6 separate regions of the Homo sapiens genome follow, and regions 1, 2, 3, 5 and 6 are each linked to region 4. The links come from fine-mapping of genetic effects on gene expression. A gene starts in region 4. Each other region holds a variant in brackets. All regions are shown on one strand. Distances are between the middles of the regions.

Region 1 (5,427 bases), 23 kb before region 4:
TAATTTTTGCATTTTTTGTAGAGACAAGGTTTCACCATGTTGCCCAGGCTGGTCTCAAACTCCTGGGCTCAAGCAATCATCCCATGTCAGCCTCCCAAAGTGCTGGAATTACTGGTGTGAGCCACCATGCCTAGCCTTCATCCACTTTTATCAGAGAATTTTATTTAATATGTTTTTATGCTTAAAAGTTTTATTGATCATCTTATCAGAGTTTCTGCCATAAAAATATGTCTATAACTTCAGATATCAAAACATTTTTATTTTATAAGGCTCAAATATATTCAAGGCTTCTTGTGGATTGAGTTAACATCACAATTAGACATATTGGATCAAAACAGCACACATTTTTAAAATAAGAAGTTAAAAAATATCACTTCTTTTGTTTTGAGACGGAGTCTTGCTCTGTTGCCCAGGTTGGAGTGCAGTGGTGTAATCTCGGCTCACTGCAATCTCCGCCTCCGGGGTTCAAGCAATTATCCTGCCTCAGCCTCTCTAGTAGTTGGGATTACAGGTGCGTGCCACCACACCCAGTTAATTTTTGTATTTTTAGCAGAGAGGGGGTTTCACTACATTGGCCAGGCTGGTCTCAAACTCCTGACCTCAAGTGATCCTCCCGCCTTGCCTTCCAAAATGCTGGGATTACAGGCATGAGCCACTGCACCTGGCCAAAAAATATTACACATAATAAAAAGTAAAAACTAGAAGCACATTTTCTAATGACATGAATGTGGTTGGGATTTTTTTCAATTATCCAATAATATATTAGTGCATACATTCACAGATGATTATTGCTTATTTCTTTTTTTCTTTTTTTGACATGGAGTCTCACTCTGTCCCCCAGGCTGGAGTGCAGTGGCACAATCTCAGCTCACTGCCACCTCCACCTCCTGGGTTCAAGTGATTCTCCTGCCTCTGCCTCCTGAGTAGCTGGGACTACAGGCGCCTGCCACCACGCCTGGCTAATTTTTGTATTTTTAATAGAGATGGGGTTTCACCATGTTGGCCAGGCTGGTCTCGAACTCCTGACCTCAAGTGATCTGCCCACCAAAGTGCCGGGATTACAGGTGTGGGCCACCATGCCTGGCCCATAATTTGCTTATTTCTAGAATGAGACAAGAATCAAGATTAATTGTATTCCAATTTTTAATTTCTTCAGGTATATTATTTGAGAAATCTCACTCATATAAATAAGAGTAGAAGGCATTTAGCTTTAGCAATGCCAGTGAATTTTGTGAACTCTTTCAAGTTATATACCAAAACCTTATAATAATCTTTCATCAAAAACTGATTTATCAGCACTCAACTTGATTAGATGCTCCTTTAATTTGGTTGAAAGAATTATAAATCTTGACTTCCAAAAAGATTTTTCATGAAAGTACTTTATCTACACAAAGTGACAATATTTCAAATTATCTTTGGTGGTCAAGAGGGGGTATGTGTGTGTGTGTGTGTATGTGTGTGCCCTAGAACAGCATACCATGGAAGGAATGAGAGTTGCAGTAACCTTTTGTAAAGTGAGCAGGGAGAGGGGAAAGAAGATGCTTTGACACGTAGAGAACATTCTTGGTGAAGTGTCAAGATGGAGACTGCATCTGGAAGTCAAAATCTGGAAATTTCAGCCCTGTCCATGTTGGAAAGGCTTTGTACACCCCAGAGATACATGTACTCCAGTTTGAAAATTGCTGATGTAGTGTGTATCTAGTGTCAATCAGCCTGTGTTCAAATAACAGCTCTACATCTTGCTAGCTGAATGACTTTGGGCAATTTATTTAGCCTAACTATACCTCAGTTTCCTCCTTGGTAAAATGGGAGTGATAATACCTCAAAGAGTGGTAGTGAAGATAAAATTATCTACGTAAAGTACTTAAAACTGATAGGGAGGAAGGGAGGGATTGCAAATTAGCACAAGAAAGCTTTGGGGGTGATATGTTCCATTATCTTGATTATGGTGATAGTTTCATGGTTGAATACATGTTAATATTCATCAGATTGTACACTAAATATGTGCTGTTATTGTATACCAATTTTACCTTAGGAATGCTGTATTAAACCTGGGCACAGTGGCTCACGCCTGTAATCCCAGCACTTTGGGAGGCTGATGCAGGTGGATCACTTTGAGCTCAGGAGTTCGAGACCAGTCTGGCCAACATGATGAAACCCCATCTCTACTAAAAATATAAAAATTAGCCTGGAGTGGTGGTGCACACCTGTAATCTCAGCTACTTGGGAGGCAGGAGATTTGCTTGAACCTGGGAGGCGGGGGTTGCAGTGAGCTGAGATCACGCCACTGCACTCCA[G/A]CCTAGGTAAAAAAGCAAGACTCCGTCTCAAAAAAAAAAAAAAAAGAAAAGAAAAAAAGAAGAATGCTGTTTTAAAATCTTTCATTTTTTATTTTTAAAAAATAGGGACAGGGTTTCACCGTGTTGCCCAGGCTTTTCTCAAACTCCTAGACTTAAGCTGTCCACTGGCTGCAGCCTTCCAAAGTCCTCGGATTACAGGCTTGAGACTCTGTGCCCGGCCTGTTTTAAAAATCTTAATTGGCATTTAATATATATTCAATAAATATTAGCTATTATTGTGAAGAGAGATTCTGGACCTTTCTTGCCAGGAGGTAAAATTTCCACTCTCAATGTAGGCCCCTGTTGTTTCACTGGGACCTTTCTCCCCTCTCTACAGCTTTCCCCTTCCCCAGCCCCAGGAAAGGTGGAGGCGCCACCTTCTGGTCAGAAAGGAGATTACACAATGGTGTCCTGCTTTTAAACTTTTTGTTTTGTTTTAGCATTTATTTTCGAATAGACAATACACGCCCACGTAAAAATTCAAAGGTCCTAAGAGACACCTTCCACATTTCTTCTCTCAGTTCCCTCCTCGGATGTAACCTATACTATTACTTTTGCCAAATGTCAGCGCCCTGAAATACACCACCCGAAATCTCACAGATAGGCAAAGCTGGAGTTTATTCATGTCTTAGCAAGGGAGCACACCGCCTTGCGGAAACTTGAGCAGCATCTGGGAGGGGAGGGCAAAGGGAGGATATTTATGAGGTTCTAGGTTGGATTAAGGTGGGTCTTTCAGTGAAGGGCTCTGATTAAGTTTGGGTACGGATCATGATTTAGCAAGGTGAGGGCTTAAAAAAGTTTTGGAGCATGAATAATCATTTGATAACTGTACTGGAAAGCTAAGCAATTTAAAATACGTTGTCTGGATATTCCTGAAATGAACAATAACATTATTTAAAAGTTTTATTTTAAAAAGTTTTTTCAGTTAAAAAAAATTAAAGGCATAAGTATGATACAAAGGACTTTGGGGACTTGGGCGGAAAGGGTGGGAAGGGAGAGAGGAATAAAAAACTACAAATTGGGTTCAGTGTATACTGCTCGGGTGATGGGTGCACCAAAATCTCACAAATCACCACTAAAGAACTTACTCATGTAACCAAATACCACCTGTGCCCCAATAACCTATGGAAATAAAAAGTTTTTAAAAATTTCATTTTGTGAGTGCAGAGTAGGTATATGGGATACATGAGATGTTTTGATACAGGCGTGTGATGTGTAATAATCACATCCGGGTAAATGGGATATCTATGACCTCAAGCATTTATCCTTTGTGTTACAAACAATACAATTAGGCCAGGTACAGTGGCTCACGCCTGTAATCCCAGGACTTTTGGGAGGCTGAAGTGGGTAGATCACTTGAGGTCAGGAGTTGGAGACCAGCCTGGCCAACATGGCAAAACCCCATCTCTGCTGAACATACAAAAAGTAGGCGGGCGTGGTGGCGGGCGCCTGTAATTCCAGCTACTCAGGAGGCTGAGGCAGGAGAATTGCTTGAACCTGGGAGGCAGAGGTTGCAGTGAGCCAAGACTGAGCCACTGCACTCCAGCCTGGGTGACAGAGTGAGACTCTGTTTCAAGAAAAAATAATAATACAATTGTACTTTTAGTTATTTTAAAATGCACACTAAATTATTATTGATTAGAGTCACTCTGTTGTGCTATCAAATACTACATTTTATTCATTCTATTTTTTTGTACCCATTACCCATTCCCATTACAGCTTTTATTTTTGGGGCAAGGGCTTCCTGAAATACTAAAGTCTTGTTGGTAAAGACAGTAGAATAGCAAAGTCAAGCTAATGTAGGCAGTAAAGTGTGTGGGTGGGGCTTGGCTAATTCTCAGTTTCTGGTATATCTTTTCAGAGATATTCTGTGCTTATTCAACTATACATGTATAAATTTCTTTTATTATTATTTTTATCTTTTTATTTTTTTTTGAGACAGAGTCTTGCTCTGTCACCCAGGCTGGAGTGCAGTGGCACGATCTCGGCTCAGTGCAACCTCCGCCTCCCAGGTTCAAGTGATTCTTCTATCTCAGCCTCCCAAGTAGTTGGGATTATAGGCTCCCACCACCAAGCCCAGACAACTTTTTTGTATTTTTAGTAGAGACAGGGTTTCACCATGTTGGCCAGGCTGGTCTCACACTCCTGACCTCAAGTGATCCTCCCCTCTCGGCCTCCCAAAGTGCTGGGATTACAGGTGTGAGCCACCGTGCCCAGCCTATACATGTATAAATTTAAGAAATGTGATATTTTCCCCTTTACCAGTTGTTGCAGAAATCCAGAAACTGAGTATGAGATATTCCTTAAATAATGGCGATCCAACAGCGTTTGCTCTGTGGTGATATGTGATGTACTTTCCCAAAGTACGTATATTTACGTATTTTGTGTTGAATGGAATTACCGTTTGAGGTATTCTAGTGTTTTCCCTCTCAGCAATTTATCTAACAGATTATGGTTTTGGCAAAATCTGTGGGGCACATTTTCTTATTCCTGGTTTCCTCTTTTCCATCACAAAGCAGAGTACAGGGCTGAGTGGCAGGGGACAGAAATAATTATTCCATAAGCACTGAAATCTGAAGGCCAGCAGAGGGGCCTTCATTAAGTGCGAATCTGTTGGGCACCCACTGAGTAGTGAACAGGATGAATGTGACAACCACACTCCCTGCCCTTCCCAGGCTTGCAGCTTAGTGAGGGAGAGCAACACTGCCTGCCCTTCATTAGGGGGATGAATGTGACAAAGCACAGTCAGGTTGTGGGAACCTAACCTAATCTTTGGGCTGAATTAAGAATTCCCAGAAGTGACACTCAAGTTGCAAGATGAAGAATAAGCAGGAATGAGACAGGTGAGGGGTGCGGTGTGGGAGGATTGTTCTTGTAAGGGGAGATAGCCTATGCCTTCTCTGGAACCGAGATTACTTTTCTCCGTGTTTCTGGTTTCTGTGTTCCGCCATTTGTTCTGTACATCTTGTGGTCTGCTTTCCAGATTTTTTTTTTTTTTTTTTTTTTTGAGACGGAGTCTCACTCTGTCCCCCAGTCTGGGGTGCAGGGGCGCAATATCGGCTCACTGCAAGCTCCGCCTCCTGGGTTCACG
Region 2 (5,427 bases), 130 kb after region 4:
TGCTGGTTTGTGAGAGCTGTATGTAGAGGAAAACAAAAATTAGCCGGGCGTGGTGGCAGGCACGTGTAATCCCAGCTACTCGGGAGGCTGAGACAGGAAAATCGCTTGATTCTCCACCCAGGAGGTGGAGGCTGCAGTGAGCAGAGATCGTGGGCTGCACTCCAGCCTGGGCAACAAAGTGAGACTCTGTCTCAAAAAAAAAAAAAAAATTGAAACAAAAAATGAATTGGTTATAAGAATAACATTTTGATTTAGATTGGATTAAACTTTCTCAGTCAAATGAGACTGTTAGAGTAGCTTAAATTTATTAGAAGAGCTAAATGATTTGTCTGATAAGTTGTCCAAGGGTATGGAGGCTCTGGTTGGAGAATAAAGCTCTTTCCTGATTGCAATATATGAATTCTGTTCATTCAATAAGTTGGTCATATGTATAAAGTAGACGATTGCTAAATATAACATTAGTTATCACCTTCAAAGCTTATCTCTTCGCCTCCGCGTCTATTCTCTTTGTCCTCTCTCATTTGTTGTTTTTGATGGCTACTCTATGCTTTTACTGAGAATAGAAGAATGAGAAAACCAGCTTAGATTGCGTATGTGAAATACTAGAAAGTGAGATTGTATTTTCCTTCTCTGATGACTTTACAAATAGAATGATTAAAAAGTATTTTTCTCTAATAATTTGTGTACACAGAAACTTAGGATTGACAAAACGATCTTATTTGTTCTTGACATATGTATAATTTTATGCTTTTTTAAAAAACTTTTTTTTCTGTTCATGGCCTTTTCCTCTGTTTCTTCTTCCTCATGACACCACTTTAACAACTGATGTCTTACTACACATTATTCTCATTATCTCATTATAGGATTTAACTGCCCTCTTTCGGTCAATGCCAGTAATTGCACCATTAATGACAGTTGCTAAAGCAGTCAGTCCAGTGACTTTTCAGAGGGTGCTGAGATTACAGATTCTCTTCCAGGATTCTTTGTTTGTTTAGTAGCCAATCAAGGGTAAAGTCTCTTCTATTCAATCACTAGAGGAAAAACCATTTTCTCACTACCTTGATTCTAGAAAAATTTGTGCATTCTTTTGATAATACTCAGACACAAATAGTTCTTTAGTGGCCATTCAATTATTCCCTTTGTTACTGTACATTTCCAAGATAGATTATTTGATTAGCAAAAATGCCTGCGCAATGCATTCAGGTTATTGCCAGGTATGGACACTACTAGAATGACAGTGAGTAAGAGAGAAAAAAGAAATGATACCTTTCAGTAAGAAGGAAAATGGAACTATCAATAATAGAAGGCTAATTAGTAAAGAAAAAGTCAAGAGAAGATAAGACTGAGAAAAACTTCAGATTCTTAATAAAAAGAAGGCACTCAATTATAGGAAAGTAAACTTTCTGAAAAGTAGGAGAGAAGTAGGATAGTGGTAAATTTGCTACCATTTTGAAATGGTCCATAATCATGAATATATAATTTCAGTATATGGCACAGACTCATTACAGAATCACACAGTGCTAAGTTCCTAGGCCTTGTCTGTCCTCGAACAATAGTATATAATTTAACTTCTCTCGCCTCATCTTGACAGATAAATACCATGCTATCCATTTTTCTGTTTAAGCGCCTTCTGTGTTGGGCTATCCAAGTCAGGAAATCTTTCCTTAGTATTCTGTAGGACCCATTAGGTTGAAATCAGGAGGTTTTTCACCATTTGATGGTTTGGATCTATAAGAAGGACACTTTCATATTGTTCAACCCAAATATTTATTGTCCTGTCATGAAATAGCAATGATATATTTGGAATGTCAGCTAGCTTTTCTGTCCAGTGCCTCCCTCCCATCTTCATCTCAGATATTAAATTTTACTAAAACTTACTTTTATTTAGAATGTAATTCTTCTGAATCACTTTCAGACTTTCTGTTTTTATATGTGGTTGTGTGGTCTGTGACATCACAGGACATTTTCTGAAAGGGTGCCTCACTATTGTCTCTGGGGTTGTTTTCCAAACTATTGAAAACTATTCTGCAGATCTTCATGCTCAAAATGTTTTGATCTTACAAGAACTTATCACTGAAAGATTTCAAACAACAACTAGAATTCAGATTCCTTTTTCAACTGCTTATTAAACGGTTCATTGATTGAAACATTGAGAGATTGTAGTTGTTCAATGGGAATGTCAATGGGAAGACAACTAAGTTTATGCATGAAGAGGGAAAGGCAAGTGAATCACGACCACTGCCCACCTGACAGCAGCTGTGCAAAATGCTGTGACAGACTGTTTCCAAAGATGCACATCACTGCGTATCTTCCAACAGACATGCCCTTTAAAAACAACTTTATTGCCAGGCGTGGTGGATCATACCTGTAATCTTAGCACTTTGGGAGGCTGAGGCGGGTGGATCACCTGAGGCCAGGAGTTCAAGACCAGCCTGGCCAACATGGTGAAACCCTGTCTCTACTAAAAATACACAATTAGCCAGGTGAGATGGCTCATGCCTGTAATCCCAGCTACTTGGGAGGCTGAGGCAGGAGAATCACTCGAACCTGGGAGGCAGAGGTTGCAGTAAGCTGAGATCGCGCCTCTGCAGTCCAGCCTGGCGAAAGCGTGAAACTCCATCTCAAAAACAAACAAACAAAAAAACAAAACAAAAAACTTGGTTGATATGTAATTGATGCACTATAAACTGCACCTGTTTGACATGCGTATTTTGATGAGCCACAGGATTTTTTGCCATGTGTCCTTGATACTGCTTCTCCAAGAATTTGAGTCTATTTTTACTATTCTTGAATCCAGTCCAGCCCTGTGACTCACTTGACCAGCAGAGTGCTGTGGAGCTGGTGTTGTGTGTCTTGGAGAGCTAGGTTATAGAAGCCTGGCAACTTCTACTGTCTCTTGGCACATTTGCACTTGGGACCCCTGACCTGCCTTGTAACAAGTGTATCTACTTGCTGGAGAGACCAGGTAGAGAGGACCTAAGTCTATTTGGAGAGTGAGAG[G/A]TCAAGTTATCCCAGCATCCTAATCAAATCTTCAGGTAATTCCAGCTCTAGCTATCATCTAACTGCTTGAGGTACCCCATGCGAGACCACTCACCTTACCCCAGTCAACCATAGAACCATGAGAAATAAGAAAATGATAATTACTTTAAACTGCTAAGTTTTGGAGTGGTTTGCGTGCAGCAATTTATCACCAAAACAGAGACTGGTACTATGAAAGGCTGATGATTTTACAAAAATCTAAAATATGTGGCATTGGTTTGGGGACCAGGTGATGAGAAGAATCTGGAAGGGACTCTAAGAAATTCTTTGTAAAGGCTGGAAGGACAAGGAACACATTTTTTATTGGGAGCTAGAAAAAAGGTCGCTTGTGTAATGTAGTGGCAAAAAGTTTAGCAATGCTTCAGCTTGTGATAAGGTGGCTAAGGAAGTATCTACCTAGGATGTTGAATATACCAGCTCGTTTCTTTTAGCTGCATGTGATAAGGTAAAGATGGAGATGAACTAAAGAAGTAACTGCTCAGTTTTCAACTAGAATCTAGAGGCAACACATTTCTTTGCCAGATTTTTTAGGATTGAAAACAAAACTGTTTCTCATCTCCATTCTCTTCCAGTAAAAGATTATTAAAGTAATAAATTACAACAGAGCAAAAGATCAAATTCAGGGCACTGCCACTAAAAGTATGGCCTCAGGGTCAAGATTTCAAGATTACAGCTGTAGACCTTTGTGTAGACCTCAGAAAGATTTAAAATAATGCCTCCTGAACCCTCTCAGCTAGGCAAAAAGTCTACTAAAAATCCCAAGGACGTGTTTCTTAGACCTTTTCTGTTAAAGGCTTCTTAGAAACTTAAGAGCATTGTTACCCAGCACTTTTCTTCTCAGTCAAAGGTAGAGAGGGACCTGTCTTATGATTTATCAGTGTGGCTTTTGTTTACTGGAATGGTTATAGATTGATAGAAAAGAAGTCCATACAGCTTTTAAAAGAATTCTGCTGCCTTGTACTGAAAGGGAGAGACAGTTGAAAATAAAAAAATAAAAAGAGGCCTCTGAGTCTTCAAACTTTTATAGTCAGGAAGCAGTTTGATATTGACCAGCAAATATGGGCAATGTCTTATAGAAAAGGAAAGATAACTTAAAAGGAAGATCTTAGAACCCAGAAAGCAGAGGGAAGAGGAATGGAGAAGCACTTTGATGATTGCAGGACTGGGCCCTCATGGAGGAATGGCGATGTGTTCCCAGCCAGAATTGCTATGATGAGTGATTGCTATGTGCTTCCTGTTCTCTCAATTTTTTTGAATAGGAATATTTATGCCCTTATCCTTTCTTTGTCTCACCATCTTTTTTGGGTTTGTGTGCATGGCAGATATCTTTTTTTTTTTTTTTTTGAGATGGAGTCTTGCTCTGTTGCCCAGGCTGGAGTGCAGTGGTGCACTCTTGGCTCACTGCAACTTCTGCCTCCCAGATTCAAGCAATTCTCCCTGCCTCAGCCTCCCAAGTAACTGGGATTACAGGTGCCCACCACCACGCCGGTTAATTTTTGTATTTTTTTAGTAGAGATGGGGTTTCACCATGTTGGCCAGGCTAGTCTTGAACTCCTGACCTCAGGTGATCCACTTGCCTTGGGCTCCCAAAGTGTTGGGATTACAGGCATAAGCCACCACATCCGGCTGATATCTTGTTTCTTAAGTTCAAATGTCTTCGGGTTGAGATATCTTGTCTCCTGTGCTCAAGGAGTAGTACCTAAGGAAGTTCACCCAAAGGACTCCATTCACATCTGATTTAGGTGATGAAATCTTAGACTTATGCTTAAGAAGATGAGGCTTTTGAGGAAGAGGCTAAGTGCATTTTGTATGTGGGAGAGAGATGAAATTTGTGGCCAAATGGCAGCTCATAACAATGTGTGTTTCCAAAGGTGGCCACAATAATATCTCCAACCACATGCTCTTTTGTAATGTGATCTTGCTACTCCTCCCTCAAGAGGTGAAATCTGTTTCACTCTTCTTGAATCCTAGCTGACCTTATGATGTACTTGACTAATCAAATGTAATGGAAGTAATACATGACTTCTGCGGCCAATTCAAAGAAATCTTGCAGCTTCTTCCTATAGTTTTTGAAGCTCTTGTTCTTGGGAGCTCTGAAATGCCATGTAACAAGCCAAGCTACTCTGTTGGAGAGACCATAAAATGAAGTCCTGAGACTACATGCAGGGAGAGAGAGAACAAGCAGTCTCTCAGAATCCCAGTGGAGTCTCCACGTGACTCCAATCCCAGCTGCCATCTGGCTGCAATTTCATGAGAGACTCTTGGCAAGACCATGAGAAAAATCATCCAGGTAAGCCATGTCAACCCATGAAACTGTGAAATATATGAAATTGTTGTTTTAAGCAAATTAGATTTTGGGGTGGTTTTTTATACAGTAACAGATAAATG
Region 3 (5,358 bases), 24 kb after region 4:
TTGAACCTGGGAGGCGGAGGTTGCAGTGAAGTGAGCTGCACGCCACCGCACTCCAGCCTGGGCGACAGAGCGAGACTCTGTCTCAAAAAAAAGTAGGAATAAAATGAAGTCTGTCTACATATAGAAACCATATTATATATCAGAGTATGTAGAATCACGGAAAAGGAATTACATAAGGTGAGGGGAATTTATCCAGCTAAAGTAATCTTTTGAATTATTATTATTATTTTTTTTTGAGACGGAGTTTCGCTCTTGTTGCCCAGGCTGGAGTGCAATGGTGGGATCTTGGCTCACCGCAACCAGTGCCTCCTGGGTTCAAGCGATTCTCCTGCCTCAGCCTCCCGAGTAACTGGGATTACAGGCATGCGCCACCACGCCTGGCTAATTTTTGTATTTTTAGTAGAGACGGGGTTTCTGCATGTTGGTCAGGCTAGTAGTCGCCAACTCCCGACCTCAGGTGATCCGCCCGCCTTGGCCTCCCAAAGTGCTGGGATTACAGGCGTGAGCCACCACGCCTGGCCCTTGAATTATTCTTTACTCTATAGATGTATTTTTTGGCCGAGTGTGATGACTCTCACCTATAATTCCAGTACTTTGGGAGGCCAAGGCCGGTGGATTTCTTGAGCTCAGGAGTTTGAGACCAGCCTGAGCAACATAGTGAAACCTTGTCTCTACAAAAAAATATAAAAATTAACTGGGCATTGTGGCACATGCTTGTAGTCCCAGCTACTTGGGAGGCCAAAGTGGGAGGATCGCTTGAGCCCGGGAGGTGGAGGTTGCAGCGATCCAAGATAGCACCACGGCACTCCAGCCCGGGTGACAGAGTGAGACTGTCTCAAAAAAATTTTTTTTTCCAAAAGATGATCTAAAATAGGACATTTATATCTTTAATTTCCAGTTCTCCTTATTCTAGATTTTATAATCTATCTTAAGGACTCTTACTGATTTTCCCACTGCTTTTGGAAATCTTTGTGGTAGAAGGATCTTATATCTTTCTAGGCATTAGTAGTTCCTCTCTCCTCAGAAATTGAATCATATCTGAAATCTAAGAGTATGAATTAGGATAAAATTAGTAAGACATCTAAAATGGAGAGAGTTCGGCTTAAGGTTAGGAAGACGTCATAAAGTTCTCAAGGGACAAGTCTTCGTGATTTTAGGTTTTGAACTTTGCGTTTTAGGGATTCTCAACTAGGTTGTGTAGGTTTTTGGGGGTGAACCCTGAGAATAATTTTAGAATCCAGCTCTGAGCCTAATGATTGCCTGAGGGGCAGCAGAAACCCATGGTGACTGTCCAGCAATACCTTGTTTTTTAGAGTTAGATAAGAAGGCGAATCTCCTGAAGTGCGAGTACTGTGGGAAGTACGCCCCCGCAGAGCAGTTTCGTGGCTCTAAGAGGTTCTGCTCCATGACTTGCGCTAAGAGGTACTCTGGGCACCCTCCTCCTTGCCCTCAGCACTGGTATCTCCATCTAATGTTACACCCCTTCCCCAGGATCGTCTCATAGCTGATATTTTATGTCTCCCTCCTTGCTTTTATTCCCTTCCCCAAATCAGCTCATAAGCAGAAATTCACATTTAGAGCAGGGTGGTCTTCTGTGGCACTATTGACATCCTATATATGCCCTGTCCTGTAGGTACAATGTGAGCTGTAGCCATCAGTTCCGGCTGAAGAGGAAAAAAATGAAAGAGTTTCAAGAAGCCAACTATGCTCGCGTTCGCAGGCGTGGACCCCGCCGCAGCTCCTCTGACATTGCCCGTGCCAAGATTCAGGGCAAGTGCCACCGGGTGAGCTGCTTGTTGTAGAGCCAGATGCCTTTAAACTGGGTCTTTTTTTCTTTCCCTGCAGGGCAATTCATTTGCCCAGGTAAGAGGGTGTGAGATGAGAACTCTGGTTTCACATTGATTGCATTACTACAAATTCCAAGAGATCCTGACCCCCTTTGTCTCCGGACCTCTTACCCAACTACTGGTTCATGTTTCCATTAATCCTTACACTGTACTTGAGTACAATTGTTAATTGTACTCAATTGTACTCAATTTCTCTCAATTGTACTTGAGAGAAAATCTAGATCAATTGTTAGGTCATGGGGAGAATCAAGGAAGTGATACAGTTTCTATTTGAAAGACTTTGAGAGTAGATTTTGGGAATTTGCAAATAAAGTGCTGCTTATTTCACATATGATAAGATGAGTTTTTCTTCTACGCCCAACCCAGGGTGGTTTGGGAAGAAAGAGAGAGGAATAAACCTTTGACACTGACCTCATTGGTTTGCTCTTTTCCCCTATAGGGTCAAGAAGACTCTAGCCGGGGTTCAGATAATTCCAGTTATGATGAAGCACTCTCTCCAACATCTCCTGGGCCTTTATCAGTAAGAGCTGGGCATGGAGAAC[G/A]TGACCTGGGGAATCCCAATACAGCTCCACCTACACCGGAATTACATGGCATCAACCCTGTGTTCCTGTCCAGTAATCCCAGCCGTTGGAGTGTAGAGGAGGTGTACGAGTTTATTGCTTCTCTCCAAGGTACTGACCCTCTCTTCAACAGAACCCAGGTTGTTTTCCTTAACATCATCCCACAGGGGCCTTGATAAGAGGGAAAGTAATTGACTTTTAAGCAGTAGGAGCTTGAATGCTAATATAGAGGCTCTACTCCTAATATTCAAGTTGACTTCCTAATTTTTTTCTGGGTTGACATTATCTTCTGTAATGTCAGCAATTTTACAGTGTTTGATTCTCATCTTATGATGTAGCTGCATTTCTCACTAAATTTTTGGATAAAATGTTTTTGTGTAATTAACTATGATACCTCCCATGGGGAAAAAATTTTTTTTTTCAGTGGAGCAGGGTATTAGAAACTAAGTGGCCATTGTTGCCCCACTCTTCAAAGAGGGCTTGTTTGCTAGTCTTCTTTTTTTTTTTTTTTAAACAGAGACAGGGATTCCCTATGTTGCCCAGGCTGGTCTTGGAGTCCTGGGCTCAAGAGATCCTTCTGCCTTGGCTTCCCAAAGTGCTGGGATTATAGGTGTGAGCCACTGCACTCAGCCTATATGCAATTTTGACAAAGAGTTTTTTTCGGAAATGAAAATCACCCTACCCTTCTTGCTATTTGTCTGAATTCTGGGCCCTTAAACAAAAATATCACAAAGAATCTTTTTGCCAGTATAAAAGAAAACATGCTTTTATTTCTGTTCTCTCCCTTTCCCCTGTCTCTAAGCTATTTGAATGAAGTTATTTCTGTGGTTGAACAATTTAGTTGCTTTTCCTTTCTTGGTCTTGGACTTTGGTTTTGTTGTTGTTGTTGTTTTGAGACAGAGTCTTACTCTGTTGCCCAGGCTGGAGTGCTGTGGCATGAATTTTGGCACACTGCAACCTCCGCATCCTGGGCTCAAATGATCCTCCTGCCTCAGCTTCCCGAGTAGCTGGGACTATAGGCATGCATCACCATGCCCAGCTGATTTTTGTATGTTTTGTAGAGTCAAGGTTTTGCCATGTTGCCCAGGATGGTCTTGAACTCCTGAGCTCAAGTGATCTGCCTGCCCTGGTCTCCTAAAATGCTGGGATTATAGGCGTGAGCCTCTGCACCTGGCCATTTTTTAAATACCAGTTGCTTTCTAATTTCATTTTGCTTTTAAAGCTTGCCATCTGACTTCATATTACTGAATTTAGGACAGGTACTTTGGAATTAATCATTGCTAGACCTCAGTTTCATTTAGCTTCCCTTCTCCTATCATCTGGCATTACCTACATGTTCTCACCATTTCTTCTAGGCTGCCAAGAGATTGCAGAGGAATTTCGCTCACAGGAGATTGATGGACAGGCCCTTTTATTACTTAAAGAAGAACATCTTATGAGTGCCATGAACATCAAGCTGGGCCCTGCCCTCAAGATCTGCGCCAAGATAAATGTCCTCAAGGAGACCTAAGGTGGCCCTCTTGCACAAACCAGCCTAAGGCAGACACTCTCCACTGTCCAGGTTATAACCTGGTACCAGCAGACTTTGCAGGGAAGAAAGAGTTGTTCCAATCATGTAACCTTCTGTAGGGGATTACTGAGACAGGGAAGAGAAGTGCAAGAATTGGTTGCTGGTGCTACATGGCGGCAGCTTTGACATTTTCTCTGGGTTCTACTTTATTTTTTAAAATCTTTACAGTTCTCACCATTTCACGTACCTTAATCCAATCTTTATAAAAGAGGCAGTCTAGAGAACTAGGACTGCTCAGCCTTATCCTGGAGTGGAGCATTTAGCCCAGGTCTTAATTCTCCAAGAGGAGGAATACATAGTATGGTAAGGCAAGGAACTGGGTGGAATGTCAGGTTGCCTGCCCAATGGGAGAGGTAGGGTTTTTCTAGCTTGTGTGACAGAAGTAGCAAAATCTGGTCCTCCCCCCTCCCAGTGTAGCTGTGGCTCAGAGTTTTTTCTTTTTGTTGTCACTTACTCCCTTGTGATTGAATTTTTTCTCCTGCATCCATGGCAGGATCCCCAGCCAGTATAGAGACTTGGTTGGCATCTTCTGCTGCAGGGACTAAAAGTATTTGACTGGGGCACATGTGGCTGTTGTCATTCTTTCTGCATCCCACTGTTCCCCTCCAATTTATGTTATTTTCTACCCTGTTTTTCAGTTCCATCTCTGCTCTGTCCTATAGCTTTATAAAACCAGAGTGTGTGGGGCTGAGGTCAGGAGTATAAGTACCTGCCTTAGGCACTATTCCTTATATAACAAAAATATTAAATATTTTTTTCCTCAGTAAAAGGATGAAAATTGGTTTCAGTTGTCTTACTCTATTCCAGTCTTTGCCCACTTTCACACAAATGACAAGGCCAATATGTTTTGTTTGTTTTTTAATCATTAAGAGTTTTTGTACAAAAGGTGATGGTTTTTTTTCTTCATTTTAAAACACCAGGGTGTGGGGGAGGGATGCAAACAAATAACAAAAAAGATGCTTTTGTAACATTATTTTCCCTGTTTAGAAAGAAAAAAATCACTCCAATAGTATTGAAAAGTCCAAAGATGAAATAGTTTCATTTTCTTTTCCTAAGGCTTATAAAAGGCCCCCTGCCTGTTGATTCCATCCCTCTTTTGTGTCCAGTGGAGCCATGTTACTCTTCAGTGGCCCAGGGGTTCACTATTAAAGAAAGATCAGTCCAGGTTTCTGGGCACATGGCCTAAACAGGAAGATGGAAGCATCAGAGGATTAAAAACCTTTCCCCACAGAAATGTGGGCAAGAAGACACTTCCCTGAGCCAGCAGAAGGGACAGGTGCAGCAGCATTCCACACCCAGCGCAGAGGACAGCAGAGCCCTCGATGTCCCACTTCTGCTTCCGTTCCCTTTCTAGAAGATTGAAAAAAAGGTCAAAACCACA
Region 4 (5,427 bases):
TATTTTCCAGGGATTACGAAATATCCCTCTTCTACATTTATCATTTAGACTTCAATTGTCTTCACTGAAAACTGAGGGGCTTAGTTTTAAAGTTCTTTTTTTTTCCTTTAAATATCTAAGAGCCTATAAATCCACTCAATCTTCATTTTCTCCCAACTAGACCTTAAAGTGGCATGCAGAATTATAGTGAGACACAGGTGGGCTGTGTATGGTGGTTCACAGCCACAGTTGGTGGTGGGGAGAGTAAAGGTTATGATTTCCTTTTTTCTCTACTTCTTCCTATCCATATTTGCATAAAAACATGGTCACACATTCTTACTTGATTACTTGTAGAAAGACACATTCCAAAGATACTAACACCTTTAGGGTAAAGGACATCTCTTCCTTCACAATTTATTGCAGAATGCTAGGTTTACAGGAGAAGCTTGAGGAATGCTTAAGCAATGTTCAGTTGATATGAAAAGTTCTATTAGCTTAACTTCTAGTCTATTTGCTTCAGTTGCTGCCAAACATCGACAGCCTTTCAAACCAGGATCCTTCCTTATTTAGAGAAGTTTGCAGGAGGGCTTCCATTTCCATACACCGGATTAAATGCTTTTCCTTCTCACCTGTTTAGGCTAATGGCCTTCAGTGTTATGCAGAGTAAAGACATTCTGTAGCCTCCATTCAGAAGAACCATTTTGTTTGAAAAAGAAAAGTCTAATTCAAGCAGAGTCATTAAATGAAAATGAGAAACTTTAGAAAAATTAAGAAAAAAAAGTTGAGTATTCTCTAGGGAACACAGATTGTTTTGCTGTTTAGACCGAGATAAGTTCTTCAATGCCTGCTCTCAAGCTGATTTAGTCTATGAAAATGATTTTCTTATGGATGGAGGCTTTCCTATAACTTTACTTTGCTGTTGATATATTTCTTTTTTATACTAAATCTTTTTTGGTGGGAACTGTTTAGACCTATGACCTTAGAACACTGGCCTGACTTGGAGAAAAATGAACTTGAAAAGAATCCTGTGATATATGGAGCACACACCTTTACATATAAAAATTAAACTACTGGCCCATAATCAGTATAGCTCGCCTCATGATAGATTATTCTCAGGCTAAATTTATAACAGGCACTCAACAAAAGTATTCATCGCTTATCCCCTAACATTATCTAGTAGCTATAGGAGCCGGTGACCTAGTAAATAAAAAAAAAAAATCTTTAGGGGTGGAATGTAACTATATGCAGTAGCGGTAATTCTGCTCCATTTGTAAGGAGGGTGAAATGCGATATGGTCATGTACCCTCTTGGTACACAAGTTCCATAGGCTATAGAAAAACAAGTCCATACCCTCTGATATCTGCATTCCTTATTCTTGTTATAGCTTACAAATCTTCTTTAGACACTTAACAGTGATAATTCTCCCAGGGAAACTAAGGAAGCACATGAGTCATGTTTCTTAACTTTAATGTTGTATAATCTGAAAATTATCTATAGATGCTTTTTTTTTCCATTGGTGCTAGAAAATTCCGCCTAGGCTCAATCGATATCCATTTCTAAACTTCTGCAAGAAAGCTTTAACTGCTTTGACATGCCAAAAATCCAGGTGTGAATTAAACAACGAATGCTTTACCTCGTTTTCACCACTAGTTCTACCAGTCAGAATCTTTTCAAATCATCCTCAGCCAGTGCCTGTCATCCACGGCCTGGTAACACACCCTTTCACCTCCTCATACCCCGTGTCTTCGCTTTTCCAGTCCTTTGGCTGCCCTCCGGTTTCTTCCCTCACATACCTGTCTGACTAGTTCCTAGAAGCCTGGCAGAAATTGTTCTCCGATTTTAATCTGGCTGCCACAAATGAAAGACCTTGGAGTCCAAATACTCCTCTCTCAAAGCAAAATCTAAATGGATATAATTTATAAGCAAAGATAACACTTCTGTTTTTTTCTCTATAAACAAACCATGCATGGGCTTTTAAAGGAGAAAAGGAAGAGTGGATTGACAGAGAAAATAACTGTTTAGGATAGAGGTTAGGAAAAGACTGAGAGCAAGAGAAAAGGCATCAATCCCAGTTGTTAATCCACGAGGCATCCCCCAGACCCTTCTGTAAAGGTTAATGAAGGCAGTAAGGCAGTTATCTTTGTTTCGTGCACTGATGCAATCCAAGCTTCCACGGTTTAGCACATAGTAGACGCTCTATAAATATTTATTGAATGTTGAACGATGAGAGAGTAATTAAAAACCGGTAAGTTGATATCATAAATACAACGACAACGGCTCCCCTATCAAATGTTTAGTGTTCCCAGAGACAGCCCCATTGTTCTACATCTCGTTATACTCTGGCCTTTTCCCGTTTTTGTCATTCGAACTCATATACATATTGAAATCGAAGCACACACAAATCCCTGAAATGACAAACTTAAATGCTATCCAAAGGAAGTTACATTAGGTTGCTGCTTTGAAAATGAAGTCAACTCCTAATGGGTTAGCTGTTTCTGCAGCATTCTTTCCCGCCTTCTTGGAGTTGAGGTGAGGGATTAAACAATCAACCTTCTCTCTCCTTTCTCTCATTCTCAAAGTTTTTCTCGCCTTTTCCTTCCTTTCCTTTGCTTCATTTCTTTTCCCAGTCTATCGTTTCTCTAGGGGTCGTTGCTTTGCTCTTTCTCCCTCTCTGTCTGTTGGTCCCTTTGATCCTTTCTTTCTACCCCTTATTCCCAGCAGCTCCAGAAAATACCTTCTTTCTCCCCGTCTCACGTCACTTCCCTCCCTTCTCCCATCTCCCTCTCCTCTCCGAGAGGTGCGTTCCCCACTAGAGGCCAGCACTTTCTTAGTTTCGTCCTTCCAACCGGCGAGCAGAACTCGGAGAGAAAGAAGGGGGTAAAAAAGAGGAGAAAGAGAGCAAGAGAGGAAAAAACCCCTGGGCCTGGAGCGCAGAGGCCCGGGAGCTGCGTCGCCATGGCAACGGGCGCCGGCAGGAAACGAGGGACGCGCGGGAGGGAGGGGGCGGAGGGCGCCGAGGGGAGGCGGAGGGACGGCGGGGGGGGGGTCCGGCTGCCCCGGAAGCACCTCCCCGCAGCCCCCTCCTCCAGCCCGGCCCGCAGCCCCTGGCCTGCGGCCCCCACCTTCTCGGCCGGGCAGGAAGTGACAGGCCCGGAGCGAGCCCCGGAGGCCTGGCTGAGCCGCGGCCGGGCCCGCACCCGGAGCGGCGGGAGGGGCGGGGAGCCGCGGTCGCGCCGGGCGCCTCCCACCCCGCCCTCGGCGCCCCCGCCCCTCCAGGAAGGGGAGGAGGCGAGGGGAGCCCGCCGCGGAGGCCGAGCGAGCCCCCAGCCCAGCCTGGCGACTGGGGACCCCGGCACATGAGGTGGACGCCCCCGGGGAAGACTTGGGTGCACAGCCAGGCGAGAAGGTAACCGGGCGACCGAGGGCCGGGGAGGGGCAGGACCTCTGGGGGCTTGGCTGCGCGGGGATGTATCCTCAGCCACCTCCATCTGTGTAACGCCCCAGGTACCTCCCCCAGTTGCTTTCCCTGCCTACCTCCGGCGCTGAGCTCTGCGGTCCTTCGGCTCTGCCTGTCCGAGTCTTCTGGCTATTCATTCTGCTGCGCTTCATGCTGTCTGTCCGTCACCCTAGCTGCCTCTGACTGCTCATTTTCTTATTCATTTTTCCTTCTCTGACTTTGGTCCTTCCAGCCGAGCATGCTGTCTAGTTATCTCCCTGCTTTCGTGGTCCGCTGGGTTCCTCAGCCTCCAGTTCCTTGACTTCTGCCTCTGCTCTCTGTATGCACATGTCCCAGCTCACTTGGGTCAGTTCATTCCCGGCGCACCACTGGATCCACCCCCTTCCCCCAGTGTATTTGATTTCTCTTTGAAACATCATTTTCATCAAGGTTCTATATAGAACGAGGACCCTTGGGCGTCTACTCCCTGTTCTCTTGATTATTACCGTGTCTTTGGCACAGTCTTCCCTGAACCACCCCCTTCTCCCGTCCCCCTTCCTATGTCCCATCCTTTCTGCATGATAAGAGTTTCGTGCTTAGGGATATTGACTTTCTCCAACTCTCGGCCCAATGCTAAGTCCACCTCAATGTCCCATTCTAACTCCCTTCGGTAGGTCTGTGCGCCTACCCAACCCCATGTATGCCCACATGCTACCTTTTAAGATGACCATGGCTTAGCTACTCTGGGGGCATCTGTGGATCAGCTTCTCACTGTCTTCCAGTTTAATTTGGAAAATTTTGATACCTGGTGCTGCCCAAACTGTTTGTTGTCTCCATTTTTTATATTTAATCTTGTAGTCATAATGTTGATCACAAATGAATACATTTATGTGCCCGGGATCCAGGAATCCTGGTTTTGGTGGCAGTTTCCCTTGATTTTATTGAGACTTTTAAGTTGGTCCCTTTACATTTTTATTTCTAGTTCACAATCCAAAAAAAATTATTAATCAGAATTCAGGTTTGGGAAGACGAGGGGTCATACGGTTTGTATTTTCACATGTGAATGTAGGAATTATGTTCTCTATACCTAGCAAAGGGGTCTCGTGTCTCTGAGTCCAGTGAACTAAATCCAGTAATCTATAAAACTGTGCCGTGCTGCCTCTAATCCTTACCCACTTTTTTTCTTCACATGCTGATAATGAGGATTCATGGGTCTGTATCTGTTTAGTGCTTTGATATTTTGGCAAAAGATGTGGGGAGAAGGTAGACTAGTTGAAGCTGATATGATTTTTCCTATGTACTTTTTGGGTAATATACATGTTTGCAGTGACATTTGCTAGTCCTAAATGAAACTAAAGACTGGGGGGGGATAATAGTGTGATTGGATGATACTGGGAATGAGATAATAAGAAATATCCTCAGCTTTATTGCCAAGGCCAAGCAGTTTGATACTTTGCTTGTTTGTTTGTTTTGGATGCAATCCCTAAGACCAGTCCATTCACCCTAATGAAACTGTTGACAACACTTAGCAGAAATTCTGGTTTGATGTTTATATTCTTAAGCCAGATAATATTTTGGTGACCTGATATTTCTAGTGGCCCAGTGCCTCAGAAGTAGAGAAAATAGTGTGTAGCTTAACAAAAGAGAAAAACAAAAAAAAAGAATGAGTAAAAACCTTATTGTCATTTAGTGCTGCTTTGGAAGAATATTTCTTCTTCTCATCTCCTGCCTCTTTGCTTGGTTCTTAGCAGTGTTTTCATATGTGTCTTTTTGCAAATGTAAGTGTAGTCCCCAGTGGGTAAATTCTGACATGTTAGTAGATTATAAAGTTGCATCTTACTTTCTTGAAGATTTTCATTGTGTGTATTTCTATGTTTCATACTCCGGAGTCATTTCTTAAAATGATATATTACATTCAGTATGAAGCCTCCTTTGCAGTGAGGAAACAGGTATAAGGAAGGAAAGCAACATGCCTGAGGTGTTATTAGTAGCCTGAGCTGGAACCAGGCAGC
Region 5 (5,427 bases), 160 kb after region 4:
ACATTTTAAGAAGAATTAATGGCTGTCAAAGGAAAAAGGTAGACTGTTTTAATGGACATCTTGTGATTTGCATTTTATTTTCTATTTCTTCAACCGCTCATATAGACCATGGTATATGTAGAAGTACTGTGTGAATATGAGTAGATTGGTCAACATTATTGGTCTTATGAAATGGGCTTAAAATACCAGAATTCATTCAAGGAGTTACTTCCATGATTATTTTCTTATGTTTAAGGTTATATAATGTACCAGGTAAGGGTTGGGCATATATTGAGAACTGATATGTTAATTGTAATAACTAGTACTTTTATAGGATTTGCTATGTGACATGTACTCTACTAAGTGTTTTACGTGTACCAATTCATTTATTACAACAGCTCTGTGAGGTAAATACTATTATTATCCCCATTTTACTGATGAAGGAACTGAAACACAAGGAAGTTAATGACTTTCCCAAGCTCACATAGGTAGCACATTTTGGAGCTAGTCTCCAGAGAATGCTCTTCTTACCAGCATACTATAGAGATGGTCCCTGACTTACAATGGTCCCACTTAAGATTTTTTAGACTTTACAATGAGTTTGTCAGGATATAACCCCATCGTAATTGAGAAGCATCTGCACGGCCTCTTGTCTTCTGATTTCTGATTTGATTAAGAAATCCTAGATTTTATAAGATGCAATATGGACAAAATATATATGATATATAGAAAAGAAGAGAGGAGACAGGGATCACAGGAGGTAGGAGTGAGGGATTTTTGCCATGCAGTTCTTGATACAGAGGATGGGCCAGGAGAAGGATCTCAGGTGTGCTCTCACCTTTCTTCACAGCTTCCTCATTAAGTGACTTGAGTACTTCCTTCCTCTTGTCCTGGTTACCTGCCAGGGCAAAAGCATAGGCCAGCAGTGCTTTGGTATATACATGGCTGCCATGGTCCCCTTCTTGTGCTGTCTTCCAGGCTGACTCCAGGCAAAACAGGGCATTGCGGACAACAGGGTGCTGTGAAGGCAGAACAAGAAGGGAACTAAGCTATGTAAACAGGCATATTAGCATTCCCAGGCAAATACACGGATCACAGCACAGAAGTTTTTCAAACGCATTTTTCCAACGATTCCTCATTCTTATCAATAGATATAATATTATTTTTATCTGTTATTCTCACATTCAAAAGATACATCTTTAAGATTCTTTTTTGAGTGGTGGTGGTAAATAGCCTAGGGGAATTACTGGGAAAATTTAAACCTTTCTTAATGGGCTGACCAAATTCTCTGTAGATCTGGGAAGCACTGGCATTGCATAGAAAGAAAGCTGATGCTTTGCTTTTAATAGGATAGTATTTCAGACAGCAGGTCAGCAGTTTCATTGCATCCAGAACTCTCCTTCAGCAGAGGAATGGGGTGGTACCTACAGTGACTGTGAGAGGAATCTCCAGAAGGGCGATGGTGATATAGGCGGAGAGGGTCACTTCATCTTCTACTCCTCCCTGTGAATACGAGAGAGAGATCTGAATAATTCAACTTCTGAGAATGCTATTGATTAGTTCTTTCTATTCTGCTGTGTCATGGAATTCATCCTTACCCATATCCATCCCTATAGGGCAAAGTATCACAATCAACTTTTGTTCTATCCCCTCTTTTTTGGTGCCATCCAGGTTTTATTTTCCTCTGAGGCTTTCCCTTAGAATTTTTCACATTATCACTTCCTATCCTCATCCTTGCAGATATCATAATGGACAAATCAAAACTAGCTCCAGAATGATTCACCTTTATGGCATTGTTGAGCAGTGACCCAGAGCTCCTGAAACAGCCATTGTCCTTCTGCCTCTGGGAGAGCCATATGAGGGCTTGGGTAATGTGTGCTTCATCGATGAAGATGTAGGCTCGAGCTTGGGCAAAAGTCTTCAGAACAAAGGCTGTGAGCCTGACCAGGGAGGAAGCAATCATGATGTTTATGTTGTCAAAATGGTTTTATAACCACTTCACAGCAACAGGCTTCATATGATGTGAGTTAGCTAACAAAATTCTTGTGTACTTAGAGAGCTTATCTCCTTGATTAATCTTTAGTCTGCCTGATTAATCTGCTAGATGTAGTATTTCCTTGCTAACTCTCTCTTTGCCACAGGGAGTCTTAGTATATTTAATTTTATTTTAGTTCCGAGATACATGTGCAGAACGTGCAGGTTTGTTACATAAGTATACGTGTGCCATGGTGGTTTCTTGCACCTATTGACCCATCCGCTTAGTTCCCTCCCGTCACCCCACACCTCCCAACAGGCCCTGGTGTGTGTTGTTCCTGTCCCTGTGTCCGTGTGTTCTCATTGCTTAACTCCCACTTATGAGTGAGAAATGTGGTGTTTGGTTTTCTGTTCCTGTGTTAGTTTGCTGAGGCTGAT[G/A]GCTTCCAGCTTCATCCATGTCCCTGCAAAGGACATGATTTCATTTCTTTTTATTGCTGCATAGTATTCCATGATGTATATGTACCACATTTTCTTTATCCAGTCTGTCATTGATGAGCATTTGGGTTAGTTCCATGACTTTGTTATTGTAAATAGTGCCGCGATAAACATACATGTGCATGTGTCATTATAGTAGAATGATTTATATTCCTTTGGGTATATACCCAGTAATGGGATTACTAGGTCAAATGGTATTTCTGGTTCTAGATCCTTGAAGAATCGCCATACTGTCTTCCACAATGGTTGAACAAATTTACATTCAAGTAATTTGAATGTACTTATTTTTGTTAGTTACTTGAGTAAGGCTTTAAATCTCTCTTATCTTTAGAGATTTCCTTCTGCAGATGACAGAATCTTCTCACATGCAGCTCTTACATGCAGTAAATTTTAATATTGCTTTACTTTAGGGATTTAAAAAAATGTTTTATATTACTGTTTCCTTCTCAATTGTTTCCTCTTATTAATGAATTCATTCCAAGTCAAGCTGAATGACTTAGAATGTGACAATATAAGCTGAAGTTAACATGGTTTATCTGGAAGTTATATATGTTCACTGGCAATATCATTTTAAAACTCATGGTTATGGTAGCTACTTTAGAAAGAATAGCCATTTCAGAAAGAAAACCTTGGTACATTATTAATAGGATCCATTTTGGAAACAAGCCTAACATAACATGTATTTGGATATCAGGTTTTCTTCTGATTACCTTGCTAATCTTGGTGGATTTATCTAGTATAACAAACCATCGGTCTGATAATACATATCTGATAGTGTTGCTGTGAATATAATTGAGGTAATACATGTAAAAGAGCTGGCACACAAAAAGAAGCTCAAAAAATTGTTCTTTCCTTACCAGGTGTTGCCCTGGTTCCTGCCATATCGCTCCCCAAAGGTGCTGTAGGAGCCATCATAGTGTTTGTAGTTCAACTGTCTCTGGTAACCTGGAAAGGAAGATTAACGAAACAGCACAATGGATTAATGTGCATGCTGAGGGTGGAGAAATTACTAAAAGTACCTTGGCTTCTCTTGTGACATTTCTTAAATTTTGTTGTCATAGATTAGGAGTTTCTGAGCCTTAAATATTTTATTGGAGGTTGGAGAGTGGATAGTTTCCTTGAAATTAACTATCATAGCAGCTATCATAGTGAGCTAAGCTAATGTATCATAATATTCATAAGTAACTGAAACCTACTGGGAAATCCAGTTGAAATAACATTCAAGTTTTCCCTTACTCAAGTAATCACTCACCAGTGTTGAGATAGCCAATGGCCTTGGACTTGATCTCTGGAGTAAGCTGCTGTGTTTCATTTAGATAATCCAGTACATAGATGTTAGGAGCAAAGAGGACCATATTCTGCTCTCCACAGCCATAGGGCATCTGGAGAAGATTTTGTGTGTTTTGCATGGCAGAGCCTAATATGTCTCCTAGAGAATGGGAGAGATGGGAAGTCATAAAGCTTGGAGATTATCATCTATCAAAGTCATTAAGCAGAAATAATTAGTTGAGCTTAGAAATTGAGAATTTTTAGGAAGGATGATTCTTCCAGGGATAGAAGTATGATTGAAAGCAATAAACAAGCCCAAAGAAGAAGAGAAGAAAGAAGTTAAAATTATAGTATTATTTTTAGTAAATATTTATGGGAAATAAAAATAGTATAATAGAAGCTGTTAATGCCCGGATCCACTAGGGGCTGGAGACTCACCCAAAACTGAGACAGAAGCTCGGGCAGATTCTTCTACCACATTTGGTGGCAGTTTCAGGGATAATTCTTCAGAAACCTCACCACCTAGAGAAATAAGCAAATCAGACATATGAAAATTATTTCTGCATTATATCTTTCTAAACAGCTCTATGACCCAGAAGCTAGGACTATGCCTTATACCTAAACTCCTCCTGAAAAGTTGTCCGCCTTTAATACAACAGTAATATATAAATATCTTAAAAATGGGCTACTGGTTTCCTGTGATTTTCAGAATTTCTTCTTCAATGATCTTTTCAGTAATTTATGTAGAATCGCATGCCAAATAAGACAACAAATTGTAAGAGCCTGGTGATGTTGTGATTCAGTTGCTGTCATCTGATGGCTGACACAAGACGGTTATCACAAGATGATCTATTTAGTTCCCACCACCAACTTCCTTACTCAACAGTTGTATGGAGAAAACACCAACAACAAAGCCCTATAAGTATACATAAGTAAAATTACCCACAAAAGGTCCTGAATTCTATAATAATGCTATGTTCTTTCTTCAAATTTCATATACAAAGATAGTATTTTTATGGAAAACCTAGAAAATTGAGGGTAAGGAAGTGAAGACGAACAGTATTTGATGCATTGAAAATAAAATAATTACTACTCATGAACATACATTTACTTCCATTTTAATCTTGGTAAATTATATGAAATGAAAATGAGAGAAGTATGGTATTTATTTTCATACTGAATCCCTTCCTCATAAAATTCATATTAAAATGTTTCTTAAAAAAAAGCCATAAGCATAGTTAAAGGACAAATGGCTAAGCAAAATAAAATGCTTGACTCACTGAAAATAAAATAACTGCTACTGATGAACATACATTTACTACAATTTTAGTATTGGTGAATTATATACAAATGAAAAATGTAGCAGTTATCTTCCCTTTCTCATAAAATTAATGTTAAAACTTTTGTAAAAAAACAGATGCCATAAACAAAGTTAAAAAAATGACCAAGTGAAAGAAAATATCTGCAACATATTCAACAGATAAAGAATTAGTGTCATACAACTGAGTCAGAAAAAAACTACTCAAAAGACAAATAGCCAAAGATTATAAAGGCAATTAATAAACATGCAAAAATAAGGTCATCCTTGTAATTAAGAAAATATAAATTAAAACAACAGCAAAATTTTTTTTTCTAAATTTTTGGCAAAAATTAAAATTAAAAACTTTGATGGTAACAGATGATGGCAAATATAACACTATGGAAATGTAT
Region 6 (5,427 bases), 71 kb after region 4:
AGAAAATAAATATATGTTATGTTAAGTCACTAAGTTTGTGTTAGGTTATGTGTTACAGCAGTGATAAGAAACTAACACACCACTCCAGGTGCTTACTGTAATGTGTATATTGGTTTGCACATTGTATATATTTGTATACCTTTCTTTTAATCTGTCATTATATTTAAAGTGCATATCTTACAGCCAGAACAGACAATATCTTTTTTTTTTTTTTTTTTGAGATGGAGTTTCATTCTTGTTGTCCAGGCTGGAGTGCAATGGTGCGATCTTGGCTCACTGCAACCTCCACCTTTTGGGTTCAAGCAATTCTCCTGCCTCAGCCTCCCAAACAGCTGGGATTACAGGCACCTGCCACCACGCCTGGCTATTTTTTGTATTTTTAGTAGAGATAGCGTTTCACCATGTTGGCCAGGCTGGCCTTGAACTCATGACCTCAGGTGATTTGCCCGCCTCAGCCTCCCAAAGTTCTGGGATTACAGGTGTGAGCCACCATGCCTAGCCAGAACAGACAATATCTTTTTGGTTCTTGCTTTTTCTTCTAGTCTTACAATTTGTGCCATTTATTTGGTGCAGCAGTCCATTTATGATGAATTCAATTATTGATAAGACTGGCTTTATCATTTTGCTGTTTTTTAAAATGATTTGCCTTATCTGTTTTACTTTCTGTTTTTTTTAAAGAAATTAAGATGGGAAAAGAAAATAAATATAATTCTTTATATGTACTTATATATTTACCATTTCTGTTGCTCTTCAATGTTTTCTGTATATCTATGTTTTTATCTAGTGATACTTATTTTCTAAGAACTTCTTTTAGCATTTCTTGTAGTGCTGGACTGCTCATGACAAATTTGCTATTTTCTCTGCTCTGAAAATATTTTTACTTCCTCTTCATTTCTATTGGATACTTTTTCTGGATATAGAATTCTGTATTGGCAGTCTTACCATTTTACCTTTTTTTTTTTTTTTTTTTTTTGAGACAGAGTTTCGCTCTTGTTGCCCAGGCTGGAGTGTAATGGTGCAATCTCAGCTCACTGCAACCTCGGCCTCCTGGGTTCAAGCGATTCTCCTGCTTCAGCCTCCAGAGTACCTGAGATTACAGGCGCCTGCCACCACACCTAGCTAATTTTTGTATTTTTAGTAGAGACGGGGTTTCACCATGTTGGCCAGGCTGGTCTCGAACTGGTGAGCTCAGGTGATCCATGTGCCTTGGTCTCCTAAAGTGGTGGGATTACAGCCGTGAACCGCCGTGCCTGGCCCATTTTACCATTTTAAAGATGACATCTCATTGCTTTTCTCCTTTTTTGTTTCTGTTGAGAATTTAGCTATCATTCATGTGTTGTTTCCCATTATTAATGTGTTATTTATTTTCCTCTGGCTGTTTTCAGTATTTTCTTTTTATCTTTGGTTTTTATTAGTTTTAGATTATGTTCTTAGGAGTGATTTTCCTTCTGTTTATCTTGATGCGGATTCAGTGAGTTTCTTATACCTGTAGGTTGTATCCCAAATTTGGGGAATATTTGATCATTACTTTTTCAAATTCCTTTCCGATTTCATTATATGTCCCCTTTATTTTGGGGGACTACAGTTTCACTTTTGTTATACTATTTGGCATTGTTCATAGGTCACTGAGGTTCTGTTCATTTTTTTCTCCCATTTTTTCCCTCTATTCTTCATATTGGATTATTTTTAGCAATCTGTCTTCATGTTTACTGACCTTTTTATCTGCCCTCTTCTATTTGCTATTAATCTCATTCAGCTATTATTATTATTATTATTGAGATGGAGTCTCGCTCTGTCACCTAGGCTGGAGTGCCGTAGTGCAATCTCAGTTCACTGCAACCTCTGCCTCCTGGGTTCAAGTGATTCTCCTGCCTCAGCCTCCTGAGCAGCTGGGACTATAGGCATGTGCCGCCAGGCCAGGCTAATGTTTTATATTTTTAGTAGAGACAGGGTTTCACCATGTTGGCCAGGCTAATATTTTATGTTTTTAGTAGAGACAGGGTTTCACCATGTTGGCCAGGCTGGTCTTGAACTCCTGACCTCAAATTATCCACCTGCCCCCGCCTCCCAAAATGCTGGATTACAGCTGTGAGCCACCGTGCCTGGCCCTCATTCAGTTATTTTTAAAAATTATGAATGCTGTTCTGTTCTGGAATAGTCACTTGATTCTTTTTGGTAGTTTCTACTTCTCTGAGATTCTTCAAATTTTTATTCATTATGACTATATTTTCTTCTAA[G/T]TCTTTGAACGTATTTATGCAGATATTAAAGTCCTTGTTTGCTAGTTCCAGCATCTATGTTACATAAGTTTCTTTTCTACTTACTGACTTTTCTTTGATCCATGGCCCATATATTCTTATTTCTTTGGATTCTAATAATATTTTATTGTATGCTAGATATTAAATGTGATGCATTATGGCTAATCTGTGTTATGTATCCTCTTTTTTGAAGAAAAGTTTTATTGGGGAATAATTTCAGATTTACAGAAATGTTTTTAAGATAGCACAGAACATTTCTTTATACCTTTCACCCCATTTCCCCTAATGTTAGCATCTTAAAAAATCATGGCACATTTCTCAAATGTAAGAAATGAATATTGCTACATTGTTTGAATTTTACCAGTTTTCCACTAATGCTCTTTTTGCTGTTCCAAGATCCAATCCAGGATACCACATTACATCTAGTTGTTATATTTATTGTTTTCCTCTGGTCTATGACAGTTTCTCAGTGTTTTTTTTTTTTCGTGAACTTGATATATTTTAAGAGTATTGGTCAGATATTTAGTAGAGTACCACTCAATTTAGAATTATCTGATTTTTTTTTTGCATGTTTACATTGGATGTGTAGGGGAAAACTTTCTTCAGCTGTGTTTTTCTTCTGCTTTCACACCAGCACTACCACAATTATCAACACAGAAGAAGACTTGTGTGACCAAATGTGGTAGGGGTGTTCCCCACATACCAATTAGCAGACACCAACTGGGTATCCTCTAATTCAATTCCGACATTATCTACCTGGAGATAGTGTTAGATCTTACATTTCAGGGATTCAATATGCAAGATCACCCCCTACACCCACAGACACCAGTCACAAGTCTGGGCCTCTGGAACATCTGACCAATAAGCTTCAAGTTGGGATTTCCACAACTTCCCCTTTGAGTTCAGTTAATTTGCTGGAGCAGCTCACAGAACTCAGGGAAACCCTTATGTTTATCAGTTTATTATAAAGTATATTACAAAAGATACAGATGAAGAGAACTGTAGGGCAGGGTATGGGGAAAGGGGTGTGGAGCTTCCATGCCCTCTCTGGGAAGGCTGCTCTCCAGGAATCTCCACAGGTTCAGTCATCTGGAAGCATTCTGACACAGTTCTCTTGGGTTTTTATGGAAGCTTCAGGACATCAGCATTCTTGCTGCTGACCCCCTCCCCTTGTCACCCCAGTAAAGGGCAGGACCCTCTCTGGGGAAGGTTTTAAGACCCACAATCAGAAAGGCAGGGGAAAATTAGAGTCCTGCCTTGAGGCAGATGAAAGGAGGGCAGAAGAAGGCCAGAGGCCTTCCCCTTGGGGCCTGACACACTCAACATTATAAGAAAGGACTGTAACAGGGACCATAGGAGTTAGGAGCCAGAAACTGTGGATGAAAACCAATATATACATATGTATAATACCACCCTGGGGTTATGGATTTTGGGGAACAAACCTTACTGGTTAGGTGCTTTTATCATTGCATCATATTAGGGGGTACATGATATCAACAAGACTCATCACTGGTGGTTCACGCAGTGAACCCTGTTCATGTGGTTGAGGTGGTATTTGCCAAGATTCTTTAATGAATAGTTACTATTTCCTTTTATCCATAGTGTACTCTTTGGAAGTGAGTCTCTTATCCCTGACTACCCTCAAAGGGAGGAGAGTTAAATTCCACATCCTGAATGGGGAGTATCTACATATATTATTTGGTATTTTCTGTAAGCAAGATTTGTCACTTCTCACCTATTTATTTATTTAAATCAGTATGGATTTATATAGTTTTTCCCCTTGTGTTATAATTCAACACTGTCATTTATTTTGTTGTTCATATTGTTCCATTGGGAGCTTTTCCAGGTTGGTTTCTGTGTCCTGATATGCTCCCATCTTTTTTTTTTTAACTTGCTTATTTTTTAACATTAAAAGACTGGAAGATCCTCCAAGCTTATTTTGTACTTTCCCTGTCCTGGCCCTAGAATTAGCCATTTCTTCAAAGAGCCCCTGATTCCTATGTTGCCTTCTGATGTGGTTTGGATCTGCATCCCCACCCAAATCTGACGTTGAATTGTAATCTCCAGTGTTGGAGATGGGGCCTGGTGGGAGGTGATTGGATCACGCGGATGGTTTTTCATGAATGGTTTAGTACCATACCCCTAGAGCTGTTCTCCTGATAGAGTTCCTCACAAGACCTGGTTGTTTAAAAGTGTGTAACACCTCCCCGCGTCTCTCTTGCTCCTGCTCTGGCCATGTAAGACATTTCCCTTTGCCTTCCACCATGACTAAGTTTCCTGAGGCCTGCCCAGAAGCAGATGCCACTATGCTTCCTGTACATCTTGCAGAACTGTGAGCCAATTAAACCTCTTTTCTTTATCAATTATTTGGCCTCAGGTATTTCTTTATAGCAGTGCAAGAATGGACTAATACACCTTCCTTTTTTTAAAAAATGATCTTAATTATTTTAAAGCATACAATTCAGTAGTGTTAAGTATTATTATGGACTGAATGTTTGTCTCCCCCAGATTCACATATTGAAGCCCTAATCCTCAGTGTGACTGTATTTGGAGATGGAGTGTTTAAGGAAGTAATTAAGGTTAAATCAGGTTACAAGGGTGGGGCCCTGATCTGATAGGATTAATGTTCTTGTAAGAAGAGAGACCAGAGCCCTCTCTCTTTCTTCCCTTGTGCACACACTGAGGAAAAGCCACTTGAGGATATAGTGAGAAGTCTGCAACCCACAGGGGAAGCACTCTCCAAACACCAACTCTGCTGGCATCTTGATCTTAGACTTTCAGTCTGTGGAATGATGAAAATATAAATAAATTTCTGTTGTTTAAGTCACCTAGTCTATGGTATTTTGTTGTGATAGTCCAAGCAAGTGAATACAAGAATATTCACATTGTTGTGTACCGTATCTCCAGAACTTAATCACACTGCAAAACTGAAACCCTGTACCCATTAAGCAACTTCCTTTTCTTTTTCCCTCCAAACTTCTTTCAGTAACCATTCTTCTTTCTTTGTCTATGGGTTTGACTACTTTAGATTCCTCATATAAGTGGAATCACACAGTATTTGTCATTTTGTGATCAGTTCATTTCACTTAGTATAATGTTTTCAAGGTTCATCAGTGTTATAAAGTATGACAGGATTTCCTTTCTAAGACTAATATTCCATTGTATGTGTAGA

Which allele goes with the higher level. Alleles are on the strand shown, and positions count from the first base shown. SD is a standard deviation of normalised expression in the study named. Not every link is listed here.
In carriers of allele G in region 3, the expression in lymphoblastoid cells of the gene that starts at base 3,067 in region 4 tends to be higher than with A alone (moderate effect, 0.57 SD a copy in TwinsUK).
In carriers of allele G in region 6, the expression in whole blood of the gene that starts at base 3,067 in region 4 tends to be lower than with T alone (moderate effect, 0.46 SD a copy in Lepik 2017).

What was found. PIP is the estimated chance that this variant, and not a neighbour inherited with it, causes the effect.
Region 1: its variant is fine-mapped to the expression of PHC1 in whole blood (TOPMed, PIP above 0.99).
Region 2: its variant is fine-mapped to the expression of PHC1 in whole blood (TOPMed, PIP 0.92).
Region 3: its variant is fine-mapped to the expression of PHC1 in lymphoblastoid cells (TwinsUK, PIP 0.95).
Region 5: its variant is fine-mapped to the expression of PHC1 in whole blood (INTERVAL, PIP 0.97).
Region 6: its variant is fine-mapped to the expression of PHC1 in whole blood (TOPMed, PIP above 0.99).

What each region holds. Positions count from the first base shown.
Region 1 is chr12:8,888,033-8,893,459 of GRCh38, forward strand. No RefSeq gene overlaps it. Among named protein-coding and RNA genes, the nearest start is that of PHC1, 24 kb to the right of the region's middle. The variant G/A (reference allele first, on the strand shown) is at 2,298.
Region 2 is chr12:9,038,711-9,044,137 of GRCh38, forward strand. It overlaps a transcript of KLRG1 not described here. Among named protein-coding and RNA genes, the nearest start is that of LINC00612, 24 kb to the right of the region's middle. The variant G/A (reference allele first, on the strand shown) is at 3,001.
Region 3 is chr12:8,935,543-8,940,900 of GRCh38, forward strand. PHC1 (polyhomeotic homolog 1) reads left to right here. Exons shown (of 15, transcript NM_004426.3): 12 at 1,314-1,422; 13 at 1,634-1,784; 14 at 2,287-2,518; 15 at 3,763-5,358. The coding sequence ends at 3,917. M6PR (mannose-6-phosphate receptor, cation dependent) reads right to left here. Exons shown (of 7, transcript NM_002355.4): 7 at 4,819-5,358. Among named protein-coding and RNA genes, the nearest start is that of M6PR, 11 kb to the right of the region's middle. The variant G/A (reference allele first, on the strand shown) is at 2,390.
Region 4 is chr12:8,911,443-8,916,869 of GRCh38, forward strand. PHC1 (polyhomeotic homolog 1) reads left to right here and starts at 3,067. Exons shown (of 15, transcript NM_004426.3): 1 at 3,067-3,385. RefSeq lists an enhancer at 200-752 and silencers at 2,949-3,058, 3,109-3,158, 3,229-3,518.
Region 5 is chr12:9,075,939-9,081,365 of GRCh38, forward strand. A2M (alpha-2-macroglobulin) reads right to left here. Exons shown (of 36, transcript NM_000014.6): 23 at 4,156-4,239; 24 at 3,701-3,877; 25 at 3,306-3,393; 26 at 1,763-1,919; 27 at 1,408-1,482; 28 at 818-998. It also overlaps a transcript of KLRG1 not described here. Among named protein-coding and RNA genes, the nearest start is that of A2M-AS1, 13 kb to the left of the region's middle. The variant G/A (reference allele first, on the strand shown) is at 2,392.
Region 6 is chr12:8,982,445-8,987,871 of GRCh38, forward strand. It overlaps a transcript of KLRG1 not described here. Among named protein-coding and RNA genes, the nearest start is that of KLRG1, 4.4 kb to the right of the region's middle. The variant G/T (reference allele first, on the strand shown) is at 2,238.